Linked DNA regions of Homo sapiens: all the other regions are linked to region 2. Evidence: fine-mapped expression QTL. A gene starts in region 2. Each other region holds a variant in brackets. All regions are shown on one strand. Distances are between the middles of the regions. Region 1 overlaps LOC105370198 (a long non-coding RNA gene). Region 2 holds the start of ITM2B (integral membrane protein 2B). Region 3 overlaps LOC105370198 (a long non-coding RNA gene). Region 4 overlaps LOC105370198 (a long non-coding RNA gene).

Region 1 (6,262 bases), 67 kb after region 2:
ATTGATCTTTTTATCATTATGAGACATCCTTCTTTAGAGATATTTCTTGCTCTAAAGTCTGTGCTGTCTGATATTAATACAGCTCTACCAGCTTTTTTTTTTGTTACTGTTGGCATGGCATGGCATTTTGTTTCTCCTATTCTTTTTTTTTTTTCTGAGACAGGGTTTGTCTCTCTCTCTTGCCCAGGCTGGAGTACAGTGGCATGATCATGGCTCACTGCAGCATCGGACTCTTGGGCTCAAGAGTGATCCTTCCACCTCAGCCTCTGGAGTAGCTAGTACTACAGGCCTGTGCCCACCATGCCCAGCTAATTTTTATTTATTTTTATTTTTTTGATACTGAGTCTTGCTCTGTTGCCCAGGCTGGAGCACAGTGGCATGATCTCTGGTCACTGCAACTTCCACCTCCCAGGTTCAAGTGATTCTCCTGCCTCAGCTTCCAGAGTAGCTGGGACTATAGGCTTATGCCACCACACCCAGCTAATTATTGTATTTTTTTTAGTAGAGATGGGGTTTTGCCATGTTGGCCAGGTTGGTCTTGAACTCCTAGCCTCAAGTGATCCACCCGCCTCGTCCTCCCAAAGTACAGGAGTACTGGAATTATAGAAGTGAGCCACTGTGCCCAGTCTCCATGTCTCCATTCTTTTTCTTTAAACTTTGTGTCTTCTATTTAAATTGAGTCTCTCTCTCTCTCTTTTTTTTTTTTTTTTTTTGAGACAGTCTCATCTGTCACCCAGACTGGAGTGCAGTGGCGTGATCTTGGCTCACTACAATCTCTGCCTCCTGACTCAAGCGATTCTCCTGCCTCAGCTTCCTGAGTAGCTGGAATTACAGACATGCACCACCATGCCTGGCTAATTTTTATATTTTTGGTAGAGACAGGGTTTTGCCATGTTGGCCAGGCTGATCTTGAACTTCTGGCCTCAAGTAAACCACCCTCCTTGGTCTCCTAAAGTGCTGGGATTTCAGGCATGAGCCACTGCGCCCAGCCTAAATTGAGTCTCTTGTAAACAGAATACGTATTTTTCTTTTTTGTCTTAAAGTAATTCTGATCTTCTAATTGGGGTACTAATCCATTAACATTTAATGTAATTATTGAAATATTTATGTTTAACTCTATTACCTTGTTAACTTGTTTCTATTTCTGTTCTTTATTTCTCCTTTCTTGCTTTTTGAGGGGAGAGAATCAAGTACTTTTATTATTCCTTTTTTTCCTCTCTTGTTTTAACTTATTGGTTATCAGCTTTAAGAGGGGGTCTCACTCTGTTGCCCAGCCTGGAGTGCAGTGACTATTCACAGGTCTTTCTCGGGGTTTCAACCAATAGTTTTTACCTATTCACCTTGGTGGGCTTTGTTTTTCTATCTTCTCAGTACCATGCTGCTGCAAAAATCTTTGCCCAGCTCTCCAGCCTCCTAGCTGCTGCTTTTCTTTTGGTTCTCCTGCAGTCTCTGCTTGTGCTTGCTCAGCTTAGGAGTTTGCAGACATCTCAAGGGGAGATTGCATGTAGCCTTTTGGGTTTATTTCTCTGCAACTCTCTCCTCCTTGAGATTTTACCATCAAGTCGCAGCCACTTGAGCAGCTTTAAACTCTAATCCGTCTCTTCAGCCTAATGGAACTGCCACTTACTTTATTCCCTGACCTGTGAGTTGGGCCAGGGTGAGTATAGAGATCACTTTGATGTGCCTCCCTTCTCTTAGGGATCATCTGTCTTGGTTGCCCTCCAATGCTTTCAAATGTTGTGCTATGTACTTAGTCCATCTGGTACAGTTGTTTTCAACGGGAGGGTTAGCTCAATATAAGCTACGCTGTTATGGCTGGAATCAAACGTCTTCTATTTTACAATAAATAAAAAATCTAAAAGAATTCAAAAGACTGGAATAAGGAAATTACAAAAGCACAAAAACTGAATCACAGATTACAAACTTCAGTCCTAATCTAAAGCCATCCTTAAGTCTTCTGAATTCAGCATTCTGTTTAGAACAAATGCACTCTTTTCTCATCTTCAGTTTGGTTCCTTGGCAAGAGCTTTGACCTAGACTAAGAAAGTCATGGTTTGGTCTCTGGACTTTTATATAAAAAGTATGTGATTCTGGACAAACTTATTTTTATCACTTAGTTTTATCACTAGTCAGGGAAGATGGCCCTTAAAGCCTGCTTGCCTTAAGTCCTTTAAGGAATAAGCTGGGTATAAGTAAATAAATAAATACAATGTGAAGTGCTTGCCCTGTCTTCCTTGCAGAGTTGATATGAGGTCAGCTTAGCTGTAGAGGCAAAGTTCACAAGGGTGCCTTCCCCATAGGGATGTGGGTGCTTTTACAAATTTTCCAGCTCTTGGACCATTTCTTCTCATGCTCTATTTTTCTCTTATCCCCTAATTAGAGCTGTGAATTAGACAAAAACATGATTGCAATTTCCTCCCCCATCTGGGTCAGATTGTCCTGCCTAACCTCTAAAATAAAAGAGAACACAGGTGTTTGAGTGGGATGCCGGGTCAGGAGAGCTGGCTGGCCAGGTGAGCCTGACCGGAGAAAATTCCCTGTGGACAGGCCAAATAGGACCCCAAACTATCAGAAAGGTTTTGGTCAATGTGGAATCTGAACAAAAAGGGCTGTTTATGTAATTCAAAAGTAGAACAGTATTAAGTTCAGGCAGCCAGATGGATGTGTTCTCATGATTGGAATGACCTTTTGGGCTGAATTTTGGGGCCTGATGGGACATGCCTTCAGAGGCACAGCCTCACTTTGTCTCTAACTCTGCTTTTTCTAGGCTTTGTGTCTGACAATCCCCTTCTAGTTGTCATATCCTCCTTTAGGTGTTTTACCAACTTCAGCTTGGTTGATATCCTGCTGGTCTCTTCATGGTCACCTTATGTCTCTGCTCAGGTGCTTTATGTGCTCAATTTCCATTGTTTTTAGAGCACATTGTTGCTTTCTGTTCCCAAATTTGCAGGGAAGACCTTATTATAATCCCCATGTCCACAGTGCATAATGGACCAGGTGCTTTATCTCCTGATCTTCACTCCAGTCTGGAAGGTCATCAGCTTCATTTCCACAAAGATGTGGAAGCTGAGGATGATAGAGGCTAAGGATCTGCCCAAGGTTGGACAGCTTGAATGTCACAGAGTTTGTGTTCAAACTGAGGGCTTACCCCAAACTCAGAGTTCTGCCTGCTGCTGCTGTTGCTGCTGAATAAGCACCAGGTTGTGAATTATTCCAAATTTTCAAGTCACCTGTAGAGGAAAGGGGAACTAAAAGAAAAAGTGATTTAGTCAAACAAAAAACTTCCCAATGTAGCATACCTTTATGTCTTTTTGCCTTAATTTGTGTTTCTTTTCCTAGAATTCCGTCTGTTTATATCTATTGAACACCTACTATGTGCCAGGAACACATAGTAATACAAAAGACATGAAGGCTATGATCTAGTAAGAGTGTAATTGGTACAACCTCTGAAGACGGTAAGTTAGCAATATTTTTCATCTTCCAAATGTGTATAATCATTGACCAGAAATTCTACTTCTGGAATTACTCACATATGTCCATAAAGCCTATAGTCTAACTGTGAATATTGGAATATACATAATAAATGCAAAGTATATAATCCCAAATTGAGATAAGTATCACAAAGGAAAAAAGAGGTGCATTAATCAGGGTTAGACCAGAGAAACA[G/C]TGCCAGTATATAAATATATATATATATGCGTATATACATATATACACAGACAGAAGGAGAGCAAGAGATTTGTGACAGGAGTTGGCTTATGTGATTGTGGGGACTGACTAGGCAAGTCTGAAACTGTAGGACAGGCCAGCAGGCTGGAAACTCTTGAGCAAGAGCTGATGTTGCAGTCTGCAGGTGGAATTTTTTCTTCTTCAAGGAAACTTGTTTATTCTCTTAAGAACTTTCAATTGATTGGATGAAGCCCACCCAGATTAGCAAAGATAATCTACTTCAAGTCATTTTTAGTAGATGTTATCACACCTGCAAACCTTACTAGTAACTCCTAGGTTAGTGTTTGACTGAATAACTGGGTACTGTAGCCTAGCCATGTTGACACATAAAATAAACCAGCACAAACAGGTCAAAACTATGTTGCTTAAGATGCATTCAACAGCAAGAAACAGATAATCTAAATCCAACTACCTTAAACATAGGAAATGTATTGGCCTACAGCATGGGTTGTCCAAACATAGGCTGGGGTGTCTGGCTCTGGCCGTCCACTTGGCCCTCCCACCTCTGGGGGAGGGATTTGTGCTCAGGCTGCCGGACAAGATGGTGGTGGCAGTTCCAGACCTCATCTTCTGTATAAGGAAGAGAGAAATTATCTCTTCCTGCAACTCTCTGAAGAGTAGGAAATTTTTCAGATGCCTCCAGCAAAACTCTTGTCACATCTCATTGGCCTGAACTGAGTCATGAGTCCACTTTTGGGCTAATCTCTGTGACTAGGGAATAGCATGCACTAAATGACTTAGTACTGAGGTCCTGAGTCAGTCACCAGTGAGAGGAATAGATGACTATAATTCCCTTAGTCCGGAGCCTCCCTATCTTTTCAACAAATAATAATGCTTACATAGCTAGCAGATTGGAATGACTCAAAGCAAGCATCCTGGGCCTCCAGGTGGCCCAGGATTCAGCTGGCTATCCCAAAGGATAAATGTCTTTGCATATCAATGGGTGGCAGTATATATATTGGATTAGACCACCTGGGGACAGGATCCATTCCTAAACTACAAGGCTTCTACCCAATGTGGGAGGAGTGCAATGGCTATTGAGCAGACCATGGGTAGCGAGGGGTAGGAAAGGTTTAAGAATCAAGGATGTTTCCCAGGGTTCTGGTTTCAGTAACTGGGTAAATTCCAGTGGTGTCCTGGGTCTCAATTGCACTGGCTCTCAAGAGCCAATTGTATGCATTTTGTCCCAACTCCATGTTCATTGGTGGGAACCGATACAATTGATACAAATTGGCAAATGATACAAATCAGTGCTTTTTATTGTGGTGGGGAGGTATCTTTTGTTCAACCTTGATCAGCACATCATTAGTAGAGCCATGCCAAAAAGACAGGTGCACTGGAGGAAGGACAGGCTTTGCCTTTAGCTCCCTGTTGCAATCCTGCTCCTTTTTTTTGTTGTTGTTGTTAAATTGAGGTAAAATTTACATAACATAAAATCCACTATCCTTTTCATCCTTTTTGAAGTTCACTCAAACTCATGTATTACTGCTTCTTTATTTATTCTTCATTATAATAGTATATTTCTTTTTAGGCTGGATGTGGTGGCTCACACTTCTAATCCCAGCACTTTGGGAGGCCGAGGTGGGCAGATCACTTGAGGTCAGGGGGTTGAGACCAGCCTGGCCAACATGGTGAAACCTCATGTCTACAAAAATACAAAAATTAGCCAGGCATGGTGGTGCATGCCTATAATCCCAGCTGCTAGGGAGGCTGAGGCCAGGAAAATCACTTGAACCCAGGAGGTGGAGGTTGCAGTGAGCTGAGATCCTGCCACTGCACTCCAGCCTGAGCAACAGAGCAAGACCCCATCTCAAAATAAATAAATTAATAATAATAATAATAATAATATTTTATTTATTTTTGAGAAAGTAATACATTTACATGGTTCAAAATGCAGAAGGTATATACAAAAAAGATATACAGTAGAAGGTCTGTCTCCCCGTCTGTCCCCCAGCTGGCCAATTTCCTTTTCTAGAGATAAGTGAATGGATTTTTAAAATATACTTCCAGAAAGTTATACAATAATAAATATTTAGAATATTTCTAAATGCATTTGCACACGTGTTACCCACATATACATGCACACACACACGCATTGCTCTCTCCTTGCTTTTCTTCATTTAATAAAACATCTTGAAGATCATTCTATACCAGTACATGCAGAACTTCCTTAGTCTCTTCTACAGTTCTGCATAATAATCTATTTGCAAATCAACAGAGCAGTTGCAAATAAATTTCTCTGTACTTGCTTTTTTCATATATATGGGTATATCTATAGGATAAAGTCCTACAAGTAGAATTTCAGGTCAGGGTTATATACATTTGCAAAATAAAAGATATTGTTTAAATTGCCTTCTGGTGAGATGGTACCACTTTACATTCACTAGCAACAGGTAAGATGCTTGTTTTCTCACAGCCTTGCCTGCAAAGTACATTATCAAACTTTTTGCAGTCTGTCGATCTGATAGGCAGAGAATGATATATTAGCGTAATTTAAATTTAAATTATATTTAAATATGGTAAAATTGAATTATTT
Region 2 (6,262 bases):
AATTTCCCAAGGTTCAAAGTATTGCCACAAAAATATATGAATTGTTGCCTATAGCATAAAACATGTATATAATTTCAAATTCACTTCTGCTACCCAAAATACATCCCATCTTTGCTGTCTCTATAGCTCTAAGAGCTTTATGCCTACTAGGAGAGGAGGAAGGTGAAAACAATTAAGGGGAAAATGCAGGAAAAGAATAAACAGCAAGCTAGTTGAGATAAAACTATCAATAGAAATGGCTGTTAGGATTAATAGCTGCTGAAAAGATAAGACTGAAAAATGGGGTAATAGAACTGTTTCTGGAGAGTTCTCACCCTGCAGAAGAAAAAAATAGAAAGACAGGAGCAATGTAAAAGTACTGGAATGCATGTTATATAAGCCAGCTGATTAGAGTGATCAGAATTCTTGTGGCATAAGGTAACAGAATCTGCATTTTAAAACCAGAGCAGGTGGTCCCTAAGAGCACATTTTGGAAAACAATGGTCTGCGGGATATTGTGATCTGGGAGGGTTAAAGATAAGAAAAATTCTTGTTCAGGAGTTCTAGGCCATTAACTAGCTTGGTTTGATTCTTTCAACCAACCAGGCAAAGGAAATGCCCTCGGCAAAACACATTAAGGCTGATTCTGTTCCCAGTCCAGGCAGTCAGACAAGGTGGCTGCCACAGAGCCACCCGCAAGGAGCCAGAGAACATTATGTAATCACTGCCCAAGCTCTGAAATGAAGAGATCAGAACTTCTTTCACAAAAGTCTGTCATTAAGGTTTTCCTTTTCCCGTTAAGCGACTGACTGATTATAAGGATTCTACTTTTAATGTAGAGAAATATTTTGTCATCCCCTAAAGAAGTCTTTCAGCTTATAGCTGGAAAAAGAATTAGTCATTTTTTATCTACCAACTCATCCGTGACTGCTGGGTGGTTTACAAAGACGACTCTGGCCCTCACTCTTTAGTCCCAGTAGTATTTTTCTTTGGATATGGAGGATCTGAGAAAATAAAAAATGGAAAACAAAGCACGGAGCTACCAATGATTACTTATAGCTGCAATGACCACAAAATTTAAATATGGTGAACTCGTGAGCAATTTTGAGAATCTGGCAGAGTCACTATTTCAGAAATGACAAAAATTGTCAGAAGTCAGATTTAATGGTGCTCAGCAAATGTAATTCTGATGTTTGTCCAGAGTTTCAAATCTCCACTACAGCGGAACAGAGAAAAGCTGTCTGAAGTGACATCATCCAATGCTCGCTCACTCTCTCCTTTCTAAATGGGAGCAGTTATATTTGTTAATAGGATTTTTAAATGTATGTGTGTATATATATATATGTGATAGCATTAAGACTACATATATTTGAGACTGTTGTGACTGGATACTTGACTCTCAATCTATTTTAGGTACAACGAATGTTAGATAAACAAAGAGCTAACATAATAATTTGCTACTGCAATTTTCATCTGTGCATTCCAAACATTTTCTTTAAAGACCAAGATTGTTTGCAATGGCTTCAGGAAAACAATACCAATACGAAAACCAAAACCTTTAATCCTTTTAGGGAATCAGTTCACTGTTCCTATTTCAAGGCAAGGCAAGTCATTTAGAAATCAACCTCTGACGTGTCTGTTTTTATCAGAACATTTCCAGAAAGTAAGATTACCATTATATTCTGAAGATAGATTATATTCAGAATATAATAAATTATAATATGATGTCTAGATTACCATTATATTGTGAATTTTTTACAGTATATTAGTGGCCTGTTTTTCAGCAATAATTTTCATTCGTCCATATAAAAACTCCCATTATTCATACGTGGCACACCAATTTTTTTAAGTTAAAACTAAATTTACCCTACTGATAATAGGTCTTGAAAAATGCTAACAACAACAAAAAATAAGATAAGCAACATAACTTTACAGTTAATTTCTAATTTTTGCAGCCTAAAAAGGGTCTGGGTAAGAGGCTGTGGGCTTTTTTAACTTATGAGACAATTACACTCATATTTAAGTAAATATGATCGTAACCTACTAAAAGTCAACACAGTAACAGCCCCACTTCATGAATTTTCCTAGGATTAAAGGGAGATTTTGTAAAATAAAGGAGAATTTTATTAGGGACCCGGGGGCAAATTTCTCATGTTTAGTTTCACGCAGCAGGAGTCCTCACAAAGACGCTGATACAATTTAAATGCCAACAATTGGTTTTTCACTAACATCCACATAGTCATTACTGGCCTTTACTAGTAATGGTAAGAGACAGCCCAAACCTACTTCGGGCGGACTGTCCCTTCGTCCCCTCTCCAGGTGAAGTTCACCTGCCACTACCGAAGGGCCGTGGAAAAAGGAGGTAAAGAAACGCTTTTAAAATTAAGACGCTTACAGTTGCTGGACTTAGTCCAAGTGCTGTTCAAGCCTAGAAACGAAAGTGGGAAACAACAGAGGTTTAGGCTTGTAATGATGTCAGCCATTTTAGGTACATTATTTATACTGGGAAGGAAGTGCCAAACTCGGTTGTTGTTGTTGTGCCTGTCGCTGCCGGTCCCCAGATCGAACAAGCCAAGTCCTGGCTGCACGCACGCTCCCCGGACTGCACAAACGACCGGGAATTCGGCACAATTAGCCAATCGTTCCCTCTCCAGGCCTCCCAAGCCCCCGACCCCGCGTCAGGCACCGCTTCCAGCACACGCACTTCCTTACAAAGGAGCTGCGGACCCACAGGAAACGGGAGCGCCGGGCTCTCTCGGGGACTTGTCCCCGCGGCGCGAGCCCCGCGCCCGCCACCTCGGGGCGCACTGCCGCTGCAGTCCGCGCAGCCCTCCCCGGCCGGGCCCAGCACCCGCTTCCTCGACCTCCCCGGGCTCGGACCTTGCAGTCCACCGCGACGGCGTCGGGGGGGATGATGAGCGCCTCCTCGCCGCTCTTGGGCTCGTCCTTCTTGGCCTCCTTCTGGGCCAGAGCGGAGTTGAACGTCACCTTCACCATGGCGCGGCCTGGGGCGCCCTCGAAGGGCGGCGGCGGGCTCGGGGCGCGGGCTGCGGGCTCCCGGCTGCGATTGCAGCCTCTACGGCCGGGCTCCGGGAGCGGCTCCGGGCGGCTGAAGAGGTTCGGGAAGCTCCGCGGCGGCAGAGGCGGCTACTGCGGTAGGGATCTCGCAGCCTCCCAGCTCCCGCGCGAGGGCGGAGACTGCTCGCACATCCCCTGGGAGGCGGGGCGGGGGCGGGGGCGGGGCCAGCGGCCGGGGGTGGGGTGCTGCGCGGGACCCTGCCCTCGCCCCGCAGCTGGGCGCCGGATCCCGGCGCGCCTCGGAGAGGGATGGGTGTCCCTCTGGGCCGCCTGGAATTTCCAGTTCTGAATTCGCTCCCAACCAGGTTACCTCCAGGCCGAGTGCTGCAGGTTTGTAGCGAAATCGAGTGAACTTTCCTGAGTTCGCCGGGTACAAGGGACTAACCTTTGGCAGCACCAGACCGCCGCTTCCCTGTACCCTGTCCCCACCGCGAGCCTAAAGGCCATGGAATTTTTGTGCATCCACATCTTCATTTTCTCACTTATTAGGTAACCGACTCAGTGGAGCACAAACATGTTTAAAGCTCTCTGTCCTTGAGATCTGACTTTATCTTTCACGGACCTCACCCAAGGGCGTTTACCTGGCTCAGACCTGCCTGGTCTTCCTTCCCTCTCTCAGGAGGTCAGGGCCTGTTCTGCCTAGTCCCAGACCAATGTGGAGGAAGCTCTTGGCAGATTTGTATTTCAAACATCTCACACTCGTAAAACGAAATGTTCCACTCTTGTGCGTACTTGGAAAAAAACCACATGCACACTTGGCTGATTTGTGACTCAAAGTACTCGATGACGAGTCCCTTTATTTTTCTGCAAAATGAAAAAATAATTAAGGATAACGCAAAATTCTCATGTTTTGAAGACGTTTCATTTACAACTAATGCGAGGTAGAATACTGGCTCCCGTCGTTACTGCGTTCATTACTGTGTCAACAGACGGCCCCCTTGGACAAATGTGTTATCTTGTATCCTTCCACCCCATTCTGTCCTGGTTCATCCAGAGTTGTGGGTGTGCTCTAGAATGTTACAGCTGTGTCAGCTCTGCCTTGGGCCAACCCTGAAAAAAGTGGGTTCAGTCTGAGATCTTTGGGGATTTGGCCCTGCTCAAGGAGGGAGTTGGGTATTTCCATAGAATGTCAGATCATAAGTCCCAGGGAAACAGCCCAAGATCTCCAAATCCTTCTGTTCATGTATTTCAGAAGCATCCTGGGCTGAGATAGAAACCCAGGCCAGACTTTGAGTTTGCTTTGGGTATTCAGAAATTCCTGTCAAAATGAAATCTGCTCAACCAAGAGGAGGATGAGTTAGGTTCCAGTTCTGGTGAGTTTTAACAGTAGCTAACCATACTTGCAGCAACTTATTTAAACTCCTGGGTCGCCCTTGTGCAGGCATCGGCTCTGTGAGGTTGACTCTATGGACTGGACTTTCATAGTATCTAATGTTATCTAATTCCTCAAAGTCAACGACTGCTTCCAGCTCCCTAGTTTAATAGGTTCCCTGAGACATTACAGTTGAAGACTAAGTATTTCTGGAAGCAAGATCTGGAGGATTATAAATAATTATATGTACATCCTTCCTACTTCGTTCTGTGTTAAAATAAGATGGTAGAAAAATACTCAAGGCATTTTGCAGTAGATGATAGAGAAGAATCTGGCTGTCATTATACTCCGGGGGGAAAAAAGGAATTACAGAAGAAAATAAAACAAAATTCTTCGTGAACAACACTACTGAACAGACTAGGAAGCTGAGGCAAAGGATGAACAAATGAGGTTGACAAAACTAGAAATCCTCCCCGCCCCAGGATTTCTATTTTGAAAGACTCATGAATAAAAGACCATTCATTATTTTGTGTACTTGCAGTGAGCAACAGTTTAAAATCAGTTGGCAACCGGTCTGGGAATAATCTCCTGGTTTTTTTTCTCCATTTTATCTCATGTGTCTACAGAACTGTGTAGTGCACAACAGCAGGGATAATAAAGACGCTGGAGCAAGACCAAACATAGCAAATCCAGTCTTGTGATTTAGAAAAGGTTGCCCGTTGACCCTGAAAACTTAGGAGCCAGGGAGGAGGAGAGTCCATGACTCAACAAAAGAAAGTTAAAAACATAGTTATAAGTTACTATTAACTACCAAATGTAAAGGGAGTCTTAGAGGACCTTTGTTTTCCTTTTTGACGTTGAGTTTGAGAGAGCAAGATGAATCTGATTCCAGCTCTGCATATCACCAGCAACCATGTTTGTTTTTATGCTTACCAAAGGAGGGAGGAAAAAATGGAAGTGGGGAACTGAATTCTAAAATATTTTAATAGATTTGCATTATGTGCTTCAACAGGGATTTTTTTTTTCTTTTTAGGTTCTTTACATCTCTATTCTGTCTGTTCTTTCTCAAGGAAACAATTCCTTATTCAGAGAAATTTCTTGTGGTTTTACAGAATGATTGGAAAACTTTATTTTATTTTATTTTTCACAAGTATAGGGTCCTTGGTGAAACAACGTCACTGAATAAGCCCTTTGAAATGTGCTCCTGTTGCCTCTTCTCTTAACCCAATGTGTGAGTTTAGCTGGTCATCTTGTGGCTTTGTCTGAACTTTCATAAAAGAAGTGTTTCTTCTAGGTGAGAGCTTTGAAGGCTTTGACTGACCTCTTCAGAGACTTAAGCACTGTTTATTTTTCTTACCGACTTCCTATTTCAATATTATATATGCTTTTCAATTATTTTAATTTATTTTATATAAATTATTTTCATGTAATTTTAAAATAATTTATCATTATTTTCCTTGAACTAGCAGATGCATTTTTTTTTCTTTTTCAAATCTTGGGCTCTATAATATCCCGAGACCCTTTAGGAATTATCCTAATAACAAATGCAGATCTCTTTTGATTTGACTGGCTGTGGCACTTGGGATTTTTGTTTTGCTTTGTGAAAAGACTGGATATGCTCTGCACTGATGAAAGAGAGGGAGAAGCTGGGTGAGGTGGCTCATGCCTGTAATCCCAGCACTTTGGGAGGCCGAGGCAGGGAGATCACCTGAGGTCGGGTGTTCCAGACCAGCCTGACCAAAATGGAGAAACCCCGACTCTACTAAAAATGCAAAAAATTGACCGGGCGCGGTGGCTCACGCCTGCAATCCCAGCACTTTAGGAGGCCGAGGCGGGCGGATGACGAGGTCAGGAGATCGAGACCATCCTGGCTAACACGGTGAAACCCCGTCT
Region 3 (6,262 bases), 74 kb after region 2:
TACAAATCAGAGAAGGAATCAAATATAGAAAAAGCTCTTTTTTGCGCCTCTGCTTTCAGTTGCATGGTTAGTTCCTCCTGTTATCAAGAAGTTCCTTGTTTATTTCTTGATGGGGTAGCATAAGTTTTGCTATTAACTATCACCACACAAAACAAAAATGAGCACAGTGAAAAATACATTAAATATTTCATATGAAAGAAAGTAAAGTTCCTAGCCATAAAATAAAACATTTTGGTCATTGTTTTGGAGGATGGAGAATATCATCTTGACCAAAGCTAATCTTGGCATCAGCATCTGTAGCTAGTGGAAACATCAACAGTCATTGTTTATGAGGGGAGAGAGGAAAGGAAAAAGGAGGAACTGCAGATAGCTGACAGAGTGACCGGAGGTTGTGGCTCTGTCACAAGCTGGTCTCCGGAAATGGTCTAGGCCCGGGAGATGAGGGCTTCTTTGGTTGGAGGAAGTAAGTGGCCAGGGCAGTGTGTTCATTATGGGCTTCACCTTCTCCATGGGGTGCTGAGCAACTGAGCAGAGCTGGGAGGTCGGCGAGGCTGCCTGTTGGAGCTCATGGAGGCATCCCACCTAGAGGAGAAGAGGGCTTGGCCAGCTGAAGCTTGAAAATATCAGTAACTTTGTCTTCCAAACTACACCTAGCAACCCAGAGAATCTGGAGTGACTTACTTCCCCCCTTCTTTTGTCCACACACTCTGCTTTCTTGGCTTGTAGTGGCTTCTTTACCCTTTGTGGGGTCCTTGGTGTTAATTTTCATTTGATTTCACCTGTATGTATTGAAGTGGGGAAAAGGAGGCCAACAGGCAGAAGAGGTACATTATGGTTGTCCCAACTCTACAGAATAACCCTGGGCCCCATGTGCCCTCCCCACCTGAGGAAATCTTACAGAGGGCATGAGCAGAGAGCAACCTGTGGGGTCTTTGCTGCTGCCCCAGGGTGGACTGTTAACCAGGGCTCACTGGTCAGGGCTGATTTTAACTTGTTCTTTGCCAGTTTGAGAAGGAGGGGGATCTTGTCCTTGGTCTTGTTTTTTCAAACCCCCAACTCACCCTTATTATCCTCTGACACTCTTTAGGTGGCCCTGTGGCTCTCAGCACCTGATCAATGATCCCTTCACTCTTAACATCATGAAACAGAGGGAAGACCCTTTTTCCCCTGTCATGGCTGCTAAGCCCATTGAGTAAAAAAGTCCAGCTCACTGACACGACTCTATTCTCAAGTAAAATATTAAACCTATTGAAAACCAAAATGAGTGATTGAAGCATAAGATTCAAATCATCCAGGTTTTGAGCCAGTGTGAGGGCGTGCCCGGGAAAAAAACATGAGTCACAGAAGCATCTGTGGCTGTTTTTTCCAAAGAGATTCTCAGGAGGTTTAGTATTTATTCATTTTCCTTTAAAAGGGGTGGAGGAGGGGTGACAGTGAGACCAATGAGAATGTATTTGTGAGACTTAACTAGTGCCCCCAAAATCTACATTTTACACAAGGTAAGGCCAGCATTGAAGAAAAAGGGAATAGAGGAAGCAGAGGTCTTGGGGAGTGATGAAGGAACCATTAACCTCATCTTGTCTTTGTACTGTGTCTGGGAAGACAAGCTAGTAGTCTGTTGAAAGGGCTGGTTTCTGTTTAGACCTTCGAGAAGGAAACCTAATGACTTTTATCGAGGGAGGAGGTGTCAGACTGTGGCCATGAATTCAGCTTCCAAGGTTTCTTTGGGGCTCCTTTGGCCAAGAGAGGGTCCATTCAGTCAGTTGGGGGCTTAGAATTTTATTTCTCACCATGTTGTGTAAAGAAAGTACTAAATTATTAAGTACATATAAGACAAATATGATTGCATTCCTAGTATGTCTGTGTCTTGAGGGGTAGGAGAAAAAGGAGAAAGAGAATGTAATTGTAGAGAAACCAAGGAGAAAAGAACGAGACAAGATATAGGAAGGGGCCATGGATTCAGTGGAGGAAGGTGACAGTGTTTACTCCTGTATAGCCGCCCTCCCTTTTGACATGCCAAAATTTAAAAAGCCCAACTATTTACAGTTTTCCATTTTGCTTCCATCTTTAACTATAAAGGGTCAGTTCTGATTGAGGTAGCCAAACTGTCGCCACAGTGGAAATCATTTTCTAACCTGGAAAAGCAAGAACTTAAGTTAACTACATCAGGGTCCCATCAGAAGCCAGAGAACTGGAGAACCCATCTATTGCCTGAAGGTCATGGTTGTAGTGAGGACTAGGGGTACAAACTATGCATGTCTATGCCACCAGGAATCTGTATTTGAAGGTCATCTCAAGGATTCTGATACTAGTGAAAATTATTGGCAGGTCTCATAAATATTTGCATTTCAATACAGACCTCTTAAATGCCAAGTCTCCTGCAGTTCACAAAGGAATGAGTCACTAATGGTTAAACTTCAGGCGCCACTACAAGTAGAGATTTGTTTCTCGGGGTGAGGAGGAGGAAAACTTTTTCTAGTTTTTTTCGAATAATTTTTTTTTCTTTTTTAAGTTTTAACTCTGCCATAAGCCAGAGATGCTCTCCCTTAAGAGATCCTTTCTGGAAATATTTATGTCAAAACACCTTCTCCCTATTTTTCACCTCCTTTCTGACCTTGTACATATGCTAAGTGCTGCTTATTCAGTACTTGCTGCTGGGAAAAGGGAGAGGTTGTAGGGGATGGGGCCTCCCTCTCTTCAGTTATTACCAGCTTCTCTGGCTCCCATTTCTGCAGGGTGACAGGGAGGGTCCCACCCACTGTGACTAATGCCCCTGGTGAAGCACTTAATTGCTGCCCCCTGAAGCATCTAGTGGCCCATGTGCTACACCCCCACTCTGAGGATGATCCATAAACTCCTGCTGCTGCAGGGGGTGTTTTGCTGCAGGGGGAGTTTTGGTTTTGGGGATGAAGGTGGAGAATGAGTCACTTTCCATTCATTTTCTAGAACCTTCTACAGCAGAGTGCCTTTAGAGAGTTGGGTAATGTAGCCTCTCCTAGTTAATAAAGCCAATGACAATTTCATGCCTAAGAACGTCATTGGTTTGAGGGCAATGATTTGCATTTAATGAAAATAATAATTTTCCACAGCCTCTGAAAAACACAATTTGGCTTCACTGTAGTAGAAAGTGCTTACTTTCTTTCACACCAGCCCAATGAAGTTTTCAAAGTTCAGAAAACTTTCCTCACTAGCAGTGGATTAATAATTGCAGGTGGAAATGTCTTTGTCAGTGGGGTTGAGGTAACCAGCATGTAGAAGATTCTTGCCACCTAAAGCAAGAGGAACTGGTTTTCTGTGACCGGTTTTGTAACACCAGTGGGAAAGCTCC[A/G]CAGCTGGTTTGTTCTGGATTTTCATGCCTGCCTCCTTCTCAGTCCTCACCTTCTGTCAACCATCTCTCCCTTGGTTTCAATTCCAGAAATGCAATCTTCCTGACATGGCTCTTCTCTGACAACCTGGGTACCCCGCTGCCTCTGGCCGCACCTTGCTTCTAAGACAAATAAGGAACTTTAATTTGGGCTCCCGAGTGGAAATAACAGATAGTTATCAAGAACAGAGGGCTCAGGCTGGGTGTGGTGGCTCATGCCTGTAATCCCACTTTGGGAGGCCATGGCAGGTGGATCACCTGAGATCAGGAGTTGGAGACAAGCCTGACTAACATGGTGAAACCCCGTCTCTACTAAAAATACAAAATTAGCCGGGCATGGTGGCACATGCCTGTAATCCCAGCTACTTGGGAGGCTGAGGCAGGAGAAGTGAGCCAAGATCATGCCATTGCACTCCAGCCTGGGCAACAAGAACGAAACTCTGTCTCAAAAAAAAAAAAAAAAGTAGAAGAACAGAGGGCTCTTGCTTGGGCTTGCTCAGAAAATCCCCACTTCAGAGGAGGGTGCAGCTGTCACTCCAGCTTCCTGGTTATGCATCCCTTGTCAAATTAACAGGAAGTTTAATTCTATTAAATATTAATCCTTGTCCTGAAGGCCTTGGTTGCTTTAGTAGAGAGAATTGAGGGTAGAAGGTGAAAGAAAAGAGAAAGGGAAAGAGCATGTAGAAGGCAAACAGAGGAAGAGAGATGAAGTCAGGGAGGATCAGAAGGTAGAGGGAAGAGAATATGAGGGAGAGGATGGCAGTTCAGCAGGTTAGTGGGGGAGTTTCTGATCTCACCACCTGCTCTTTGCCGATCAGCTCTCTTGCCACTGTTCCTGGCTCTGTCAGAGCTTTCATTCTTATTTTCTCGGAAAAAAATACATAATTACACAGTGAAGAAAGTCAGGTTAAAAATGGCATGTACAGTATGATTCCCTTTTATATTTATTTATTTATATATATATTTTGAGATGGAGTTTCACTCTTGTCTCCCAGGCTGGAGTGCAATGGCACGATCTCGGCTCACTGTAACCTCCTCCTCCTGGGTTCAAGCAATTCTCCTGCCTCAGCCTCTGGAGTACCTGGGATTACCGGCATCTGCCACCATGCCCTGCTAATTTTTGTATTTTTAGTAGAGACGGGGTTTCACCATGTCGGCCAGGCTGGTCTCAAACTCCTGATCTCAGGTGATCTGCCCACCTCGGCCTCCCAAAGTGCTGGTATTACACACGTGAGTCACTGCCCCCGGCCGATTCCCTTTTAAATACATGTTTGCATAAATATATTGAAAGCTATGAGTAAACATTTTCATTATTTTGGAATGGTAGAATTATGAATTCATTTTTATTTTCTTCTTTTTTGCTTATCTATATTTTCTATAATGAATATCTATGCATATAATAGTAAAGTTCAAGTTATATTAAAAGTGAGGGGAGGCCAGGCATGTTGGCTTATACTTGTGATCCCAGCACCTTGGGAGGCTGAGGCAGGAGGATCATTTGAGAGCAGCCTGCGCAACTTAGAGAGCTCTCCATCTCAAAAAATAATAATAATAATAAATTAATAAAATAGAAAGGAAAGGACAGAGTCAGAGGAAGAAAAATATGGAGTTGGGAGGAGAGCACAATGTTTTTTGAGGCACATGATGATCCAGATAATCTGTTGAACTATACATTTCCCAGAGTTAATTGACTGATCTTTGCATTCAGTAGCCATTTGACTACTATGTTCAGTGTTTTAGGGATTCTAATTTTTTTTTTTTTTTGAGATGGAGTCTGGCTCTGTCGCCCAGGCTGAAGTACAGTGGCGCGATCTTGGCTCACTGCAACCTCTGCCTCCCGGGTTCAAGCAATTCCCCTGCCTCAGCCTCCCGAGTAGCTGGGATTACAGGCACCCGCCACCACACTGGGCTAATTTTTGTATTTTAGTAAAGACGGAGCTTCACCATGTTGGTCAGGATGGTCTCGAACTCCTGACCTCATGATCCGCCCGCCTCGGCTTCCCAAAGTGCTGGGATTACAGGCGTGAACCACTGCACCTGGCCTTTAGGGGTTCTAATTCTTGTATCTTTAGAATTGTATTTTTAAACCAAAGGTGCACATGGGAATCAGCAGGGAAACTTTTTCAAAATGTCCTTGCTAGTGTTTTAGAATTTTGCTCCTGGTTTAGCTAAAACCAGGTTCTTGTCACATGACCAAGAAAATTAGGCACGTGGACACATTGAAGGGTGAATAGAGCAGGATTTTATTGGGTGAAAAGGGAAAAATGAAAAAAAACCTCAGCAAAGCGAAAACAGGCTCCCCACTTCACAGATTGAATCCCAGGGCTCCTCCCCCTGCCTGTGACTCCACCCTGCTCCCCCAGGGCTCATGTGGGCATGCTCAGACAAGGCCCTGGGCAAGTTCCTTCGTCTGCACAAAAACATCTGATGTAAACACCTGTGGGGAGGGTTAGAGATTCTCCGGGGACCCCTTTTTATCTGCCTTGGCGTTTGGCTGTCTCATTAGGGCCTTACCCTCAGAAGTTCTGATTCAGAATGCCTCGGTAGGGTCTGAGTAGGAGTCTTTCAAAAACCTTGTCTAAGTGTTTGGATATTCATCGTGGTGGAAAATTCCATGGTGTTTAAGATGATCCACTGAGGTACTCAAGGAAAATATTAGAACTTCTAATTTTATTTTCTATTGCATCCTCTAAAAAAATCTCTACTTATTTGGATGTTAGTATTGTACTGATATTGATATGACATGTATAACCTGCAAATAAATACATTTACATATTTGAGGGTATGCTGAAATGTTTTTCTTATAAGGATGTACAATCAAAAAATTAGGAAACAACTAATGGCTTCAGAAGATTCATTATAAGTGGGATAACTCGTGTGCAACTGAATTGAAAACTC
Region 4 (6,262 bases), 110 kb after region 2:
GCTAAGGTATATTTGCTATTAGGTTAAAAGTTTCCTTGGAGTGGGACCAGTTCTTTTCATCTTTTTTTGATAAGCAGTTGCTTTCAAAGTCCTGGCTTGAAGATCCTTATTTTGAATTAGGAATTCTTATCTCTGGATAATTTGAACAGTCCCAGACAATATGGGCATCTCCCAAGTCTACCAGACAGTCGTCCTCTGTTGGAGCAACACAGTGTAAGTCTAGCAAGGAATTCAGCCGCAGTGGACCGACTGCTGTTGTCCTAAAGGGCGATTAGGCAGCTGAACCAAGACATGTAAAGAAGCTGCTAGGAGAATATTCTACCACTTCTGTCAATTTAAGTAGCACTGCCAAGTCATAGTGTTCTCTGAAAGTTCAGTTAGTCCTGGTTTATGGCCCAGAGCACTTAGCATAGATCAGCCCATTAGCCCTCCCTGCATTCCTCTGAGTCAGGGAGCTGACAAGTGGAAATAACCCAGTTTCCAAATGTGGACTCAGAGGTGCAGAGGGTTTAAACAACTGCCACAGGATCACTAATTCAGGCAGTTGAGCGGTGCACATGTAAGACCAAGAATGTATCAAAAGGGTCCATAAGACTGAGCATAGTAACCATTCCAGCACCAATGTTCCTTTAAGTAGCAGATACTCAATGCTGTGCACCATAAAACACCTCTTCTCCTTATCCCTAATACTCAGAAGTGAACAGGCTGACTTTTGGCGACATTGTCTATGTAGGGAAGTTTGTCTCCTGGGTCATTTTTTCTCTGAGACAATTTTCTTTCACTCTGTGGCCAAAAGTGTGGACTCTTGGGCTAGAAATGCCAGAAATCAACTCTTGGCCATTCTGCTATGTCCTTGGGCAAGTTACCAAACCTCTCCATGACTTTGTTTCCTTATCTGTAAAATGAGATTAGTAATAGTACCTACCTCAGGCAGGGTGCTGCGAAATTGAAAGAGTTAATTCACGTAAAGCACTTGGAACAGAGCCTGGCACATAAATACTCAATAACCGTGAGCTGTTTCTTTTCTTATCATTTAATATGCTTCCTTTCCTTCTCTGGAAAACCACCTCATCCCAGGGCCTCCCATTCTCTTACTTCCTCTTCCTATCAAAATAGCCAATGATCCACTATCAGCCATTAACATTTAGTGAGCAAAGTTTCATGTCACCTCTGCCAGCTGATTTGCTTGTGGTCAATCTTTGTTTCTAATTGCGTAATGAAAAACTTTATTCCCTGTTTAAGGAATTTCAGGTACCACAAATGTTTTGAGGGGATGAGGGAAAGTGGGAGACGAAAGCAACAAAAAATTCAGTTACCCTTGAAGGTATTCGAAAGAAACCTGCTTAAGGTTCCTCTTCTGCAAAAGCACAGGTCTACCCACCTGACAAGAACTGCCCATCCCCTGCCTTTTTAAAATTGCCCTTCTCGATTCCTATCCTGTTCCTTCCTGGCTCAACAGGAACAATGTTCCTTTTACTCACTCTTAGCATCTGGTCTTTTTTCCTCTCACTCTCAACCAAGACCTCCCTCCAATCAACAGAAGCATGGGGTCTATTTTCATGAATCCTCTGCCCTCCTGGCAACTTTTGACCTAGGTTGTCCTCACTGCAACCTTGCTTTTTTATGATACTGTCGTGTGGACCAAAAGTGAGAAGATCGGAGCAGTAAAAGTATAATTTTCATGTATGAAAGTAACACCAGCTACATATGTAATTGCTTACCAATTATGTCTCTTTGCCTATCAGTGTCATAATAGCGTGTGATTAAATATATAAAATATTCACTTTATTAGTCTTTACTTGGAAAAAGCTAAACTCACATATGCTTAGCCTTTTTAATGAGTGACTCTTGTAGCATTACCATTTGATCATAGCGTGGGTCATTGTGTCCTGCCTCCAGGTGCATGTAATTAAATACATGAAACTCAACTCTCAACCCTAAGTGAGCTATGTGGGAGGGTAGATAGGATAGAAAGAATTCAAAGGCCTGAGATTACTTTCTCCCAGGGCCTGTTCCTAAACTGTACCACCCAGAGGTAATATTTTTAAACTATAAGGCTTAAAAGGCAGCGATTCTCAGATGTAACTTCCAGTCATCCATGAATGACAATCTACCTTTTAAAGACTTTTTATTTCTTTATTTTTTTAACAGAAATAGAGATCATAGCTCATATCACCGTTTTAAATGTCATAAATAACTTGGTTCATCAGAAACACCAGGCAGTTTTTCTTATAGCTTGGGGAAAGCTTGAGGTGGTTGTTGACCTCTTAGTCTTTGTTTTCTGACTAGCTCATTACTCTTTTTAAATGTTCTTTATTAAAGCCCCATTATTTACATTTTTATATGAAGAAATGTTATATTTTAATAAATAAATTTTTATTCATTACCTCACCAAGATTATATTATATGTTTTAACGCTCCTTTGTTTACTCATAGTACCCTCCAAAATAACAGGTTTTATTTCTTCTAAGTTAGTGTCTCCTGTTAACTGTTTTCCTTGGCAGTGTCAATCATATACCCTTCAAAAAAGACCAGGATCATGTCTGTTTGCCTAGTCACCAAGATGTTAGAAGGAATTCTCTCAGTGGAGCCAGCTTTATAAGTTGCCAGTGGTTATTTTAGCATGAGTGGGCCAGATGTAAAGGACTCAACCTCACTATAATCACCATAGGATATATAGCTTTGTTTTTTGGCCCAGTAATGGAGTGGTTTCCAAACTGTGTTCCATAAAAACTTCAGGGGTTTGACAAGAAATCTTTGAATATCTGGCCGGGCACGGTGGCTCACACCTGTAATCCCAGCACTTTGGGAGGCCGAGGCGGGCAGATCACTTGAGGTCAGGAGTTCGAGACCAGCCTGGCCAACATGGCAAACCCCTGTCTCTATTAAAAATACAAAACTTAGCTGGACATGGTGGCACGCACCTGTAATCCCAGCTACTTGGGAGGCTGAGGCAGGAGAATTGCTTGAACCTCGGAGGCAGAGGTTGCAGTAAGCTGAGATCATACCACTGCTCTCCAGTCTGGGTGACAGTGAGACTCTGTCTCAAAACAAAAACCAAAAACAGACTGGGTGTGGTGGCTCACATCTGTAATCTCAGCACTTTGGGAGGCTGAGA[C/T]GGGCAGATCACGAGGTCAGCAGTTCAAGACCAGCCTGGAAAACATGGCGAAACCCCATCTTTAGTAAAAACACAAAAATTAGCCAGGCGTGGTGGCGGGCTCCTGTAGTCCCAGCTACTCAGGAGGCTGAGGCAGTAGAATTGCTTGAACCCAGCAGGTGGAGGTGGCAGTGAGCTGAGATCGTGCCATTGCACTCCAGCCTGGGTGACAAGAACAAGACCCTGTCTCAAAAACAAAAAACAAAAAACAAAAAACAAAAACAAGAAATCCTTGAGTATCTTAGGGGAAAAAAATGTATCACAATGTATATTTTTGGTTGGTGTCCCAGTTCCTCTGCACCAATCACCACCTCGTGACAAACTACTACTCCACTCGCAATTACATAGGAAATTTGTGAATGCTTGGCCACATGTATGATTCAAATTTAATAACTCAAATCTTATTTTGTATGTATGCTGTATTTATTGAGTTCTTATATATCAGCACTTAATTGGATTGATTGAATTAGTCCTCTTAACAATTCTATGAGGTGGGTGCTCTAATTATCTTCTTTCACAGATGAGGAAGCAGAGACTTAGAGAGGTGAGGAAACTTGCTCAAGGTCTCAGAACAGAAGGAATTTAGTCATGATTGTAACCCTGGCATTTGGCTCCAAAACCCATGCTTTTAAACACCACGCTCTGCTACCTGTGAGAGGCAACTGCAGGGGAATAACATTCTACGAAATGAAGCATTCCTTTTATACAGTAAGCTTGGCCCGCCTTCTCCAACATACCCCACCTTGACAAATGTATAAATTATAAGCTTGGATTTTTAGGTGTCCACGTTAATCATGTACTGGGGAGGGGGGCACCCTGCAGATGAACCCTGGGGCTGTTTTCCATGCAGCTAGTTGAAAGCCTGCCTATATTCCCAAGCTTCACTTGCTAGTAGAATGGCAATGACTTCCTTCTCTGATGACCGGTCCTGTGGCACAACCTCCTCCCAAAGGCCCTTGGGTCAGCATTGCTCAGGGAGGGGAAGTGCGGTCCCTCAACTCTCCCCTGGCACCACCCACCCCTCGCCAGTTTTTCAGCTCCTGGCTGCTTGGGAGACCAATGAGCTATCCCTGGAGGTTGCCCTCACCTCATTGCCTACAGGTTTGCAGAAACCTTCACTAGGGGCAGTTTCTGTGTGTCTCGGAGAGGTTGATGGATTGCTGTTCTCTTATTATTCAATCATATCAGTCTCTAGCTTGAGATTTCCTGGGAGCAAAAGAGTTTATATTGCTGGTGCCTTATTGCTGCTGACCCTACCAAATCTCTAGCTACCAAATGCAGTCCCCTGGAGCTCACTGAGGTCTGCAAACAAGCTCTTGCTGACTGCACTCCCAAAGGTCCTTCATTCCTCACTCCCCCATAGTCCATCCCTTATGGGAAGTAGTTATTCTGGGACTATAGTCATGACGACTGTTCAGTGGCCCAAGAAACCCATAACTCTGTCTCCCTCAGGCACATGGAGCCCTTGCCTCTCAGGGTTTCTACTCCATGGACAGGAATAAGGTAGACAGGCCTTCTGTCCTTCTCAGTAAGTCTTGGAGCTCTTACTTGTTCTTCAGTCCCACAAAGATAACCTTGTTTACCCAGTAGCAGTTTTCTCTACTGGAGGTACAGACCAGACTCTTGGGAGGATGGATTAGAAGAAGCAGTGGCAAAAATTGATCCAAGTTTCCTTCTTCCCAATGATTCTAGGATTATATGCCCTTTTAGTGACTCTTCTGGGCCCAAGTCAATCTCATCTATCTTGTCCACCCTTCACTTGAGCACCATTTTCTTTATTGTTGTGATGGTTTTTCTTTAATGGCAGGAATCCAGGAGTCATCCATCTATCCATCCATCCAACCAACCAACCATTTATCCATTCATCCATTCATTCAACCATCCATCCATCCAACCATCCATCCATTCATCCATCAATCCCTCTGTACATTGATCCACTCACTTTGTATAAAGCATTTACTGAGCCCTTCCTGTTAGTGGCTTTTTAAGCATTTGGACTTACAGTGATTAATAATACACAGTCTCTGCACTTGAAGAGCTTATAGTCTATTGGAAAAGACTGAAAAATAAGTAGGTAATTACAGTATCACATATTGTTATAAGAAATGTATACCATTTCCGAGCACTGAGGGAGGCACCTGCAAATGACCTTGACCTTCCACGTCTCTCTTTGAGGGTAAGGCATATCCTATTCCATTGTGATTACTGACCAACCTCCATAGACTCTTCAGGGTCTGCGCTAAAGTTCAGTTTGTAAAAGGGAAGTGGAAAATGCTGCACCCTTTGCTAATGAACCAACCCACTTCAGAAGCAAAGGTAATATATCAGTGATACTGGGAGAAAACATGTTTTGTAGCTTAAGTCAGCTTTTCTTCCTTTCCTTTTTAAAATGAACTACTTAGAGCACTGGCAAATGTTAATATCCGAAGTATCAGGGTCCTTATCTGGTCAATTCTTCAAACTACAAATTAACTTTCCAGTGTTCAGTGGGTATGTTGTAATGTTCACAGTTAAAAGTGCTTCAGAAAAACAATTATTTTGTCACGCACCTCAACTCTGAACATGTTGATGAAGCAAACTATCTTGGAGTTCTTTCTTGATATTCTAGACCCAGTGGGACATTCATGTTTCTGATGAGTCTTAACTTGGATCACCCCTGCTGCTTCATGGCAACCTCTGCAGACTTCCCAGAATAATTTTGACTGACACTTGCTCTATTTTCCCCAGGTCAACATTTTGCCCTTCATCCTACTATTTCAAAAACAGGTCATTGGGCCAGGCGCAGTGGCTTATGCCTGTAATCCCAGCACTTTGGGAGGCCAAGGCAGGCAGATCACCTGAGGTCAAAAGTTTGAGACCAGCCTGGCCAACGTGGTGAAACCCCGTCTCTACTAAAAATACAAAAAATTAGCCGGGCATGGTGGCAGGTGCCTGTGATCCTGGCTACGCGGGAGGCTGAGGCAGGAGAATCGCTTGAACCCAGGAGGCGGAGGTTGCAGTGAGCAGAGATTGTGCCATTGCACTCCAGCCTGGGCGACAAGAGTGAAACTCTGTCTCAAAAAAAAAAAAAAAGAAAATCATTAAATTAAAAGTCTTTTCATTCTT

What was found. PIP is the estimated chance that this variant, and not a neighbour inherited with it, causes the effect. A credible set is the group of variants that fine-mapping cannot tell apart.
Region 1: its variant is the best candidate, but not a certain one, in a credible set for the expression of ITM2B in monocytes (TOPMed, PIP 0.61).
Region 3: its variant is the best candidate, but not a certain one, in a credible set for the expression of ITM2B in whole blood (TOPMed, PIP 0.86).
Region 4: its variant is the best candidate, but not a certain one, in a credible set for the expression of ITM2B in lung (TOPMed, PIP 0.56).

Annotation. Positions count from the first base shown.
Region 1 is chr13:48,163,469-48,169,730 of GRCh38, reverse strand. It overlaps LOC105370198 (a long non-coding RNA gene), which reads left to right. Exons shown (of 6, transcript XR_007063792.1): 4 at 3,340-3,455. Among named protein-coding and RNA genes, the nearest start is that of ITM2B, 67 kb to the left of the region's middle. The variant G/C (reference allele first, on the strand shown) is at 3,667.
Region 2 is chr13:48,230,075-48,236,336 of GRCh38, reverse strand. It overlaps ITM2B (integral membrane protein 2B), which reads right to left and starts at 3,131. Exons shown (of 6, transcript NM_021999.5): 1 at 2,860-3,131. The coding sequence starts at 2,976. RefSeq lists enhancers at 231-818, 1,923-2,620 and silencers at 2,676-2,885, 2,896-3,255.
Region 3 is chr13:48,156,157-48,162,418 of GRCh38, reverse strand. The region is part of intron 4 of LOC105370198 (a long non-coding RNA gene); the gene reads left to right. Among named protein-coding and RNA genes, the nearest start is that of MED4, 64 kb to the right of the region's middle. RefSeq lists enhancers at 2,104-2,714, 5,685-5,804. The variant A/G (reference allele first, on the strand shown) is at 3,329.
Region 4 is chr13:48,116,089-48,122,350 of GRCh38, reverse strand. The region is part of intron 5 of LOC105370198 (a long non-coding RNA gene); the gene reads left to right. Among named protein-coding and RNA genes, the nearest start is that of MED4, 24 kb to the right of the region's middle. The variant C/T (reference allele first, on the strand shown) is at 3,119.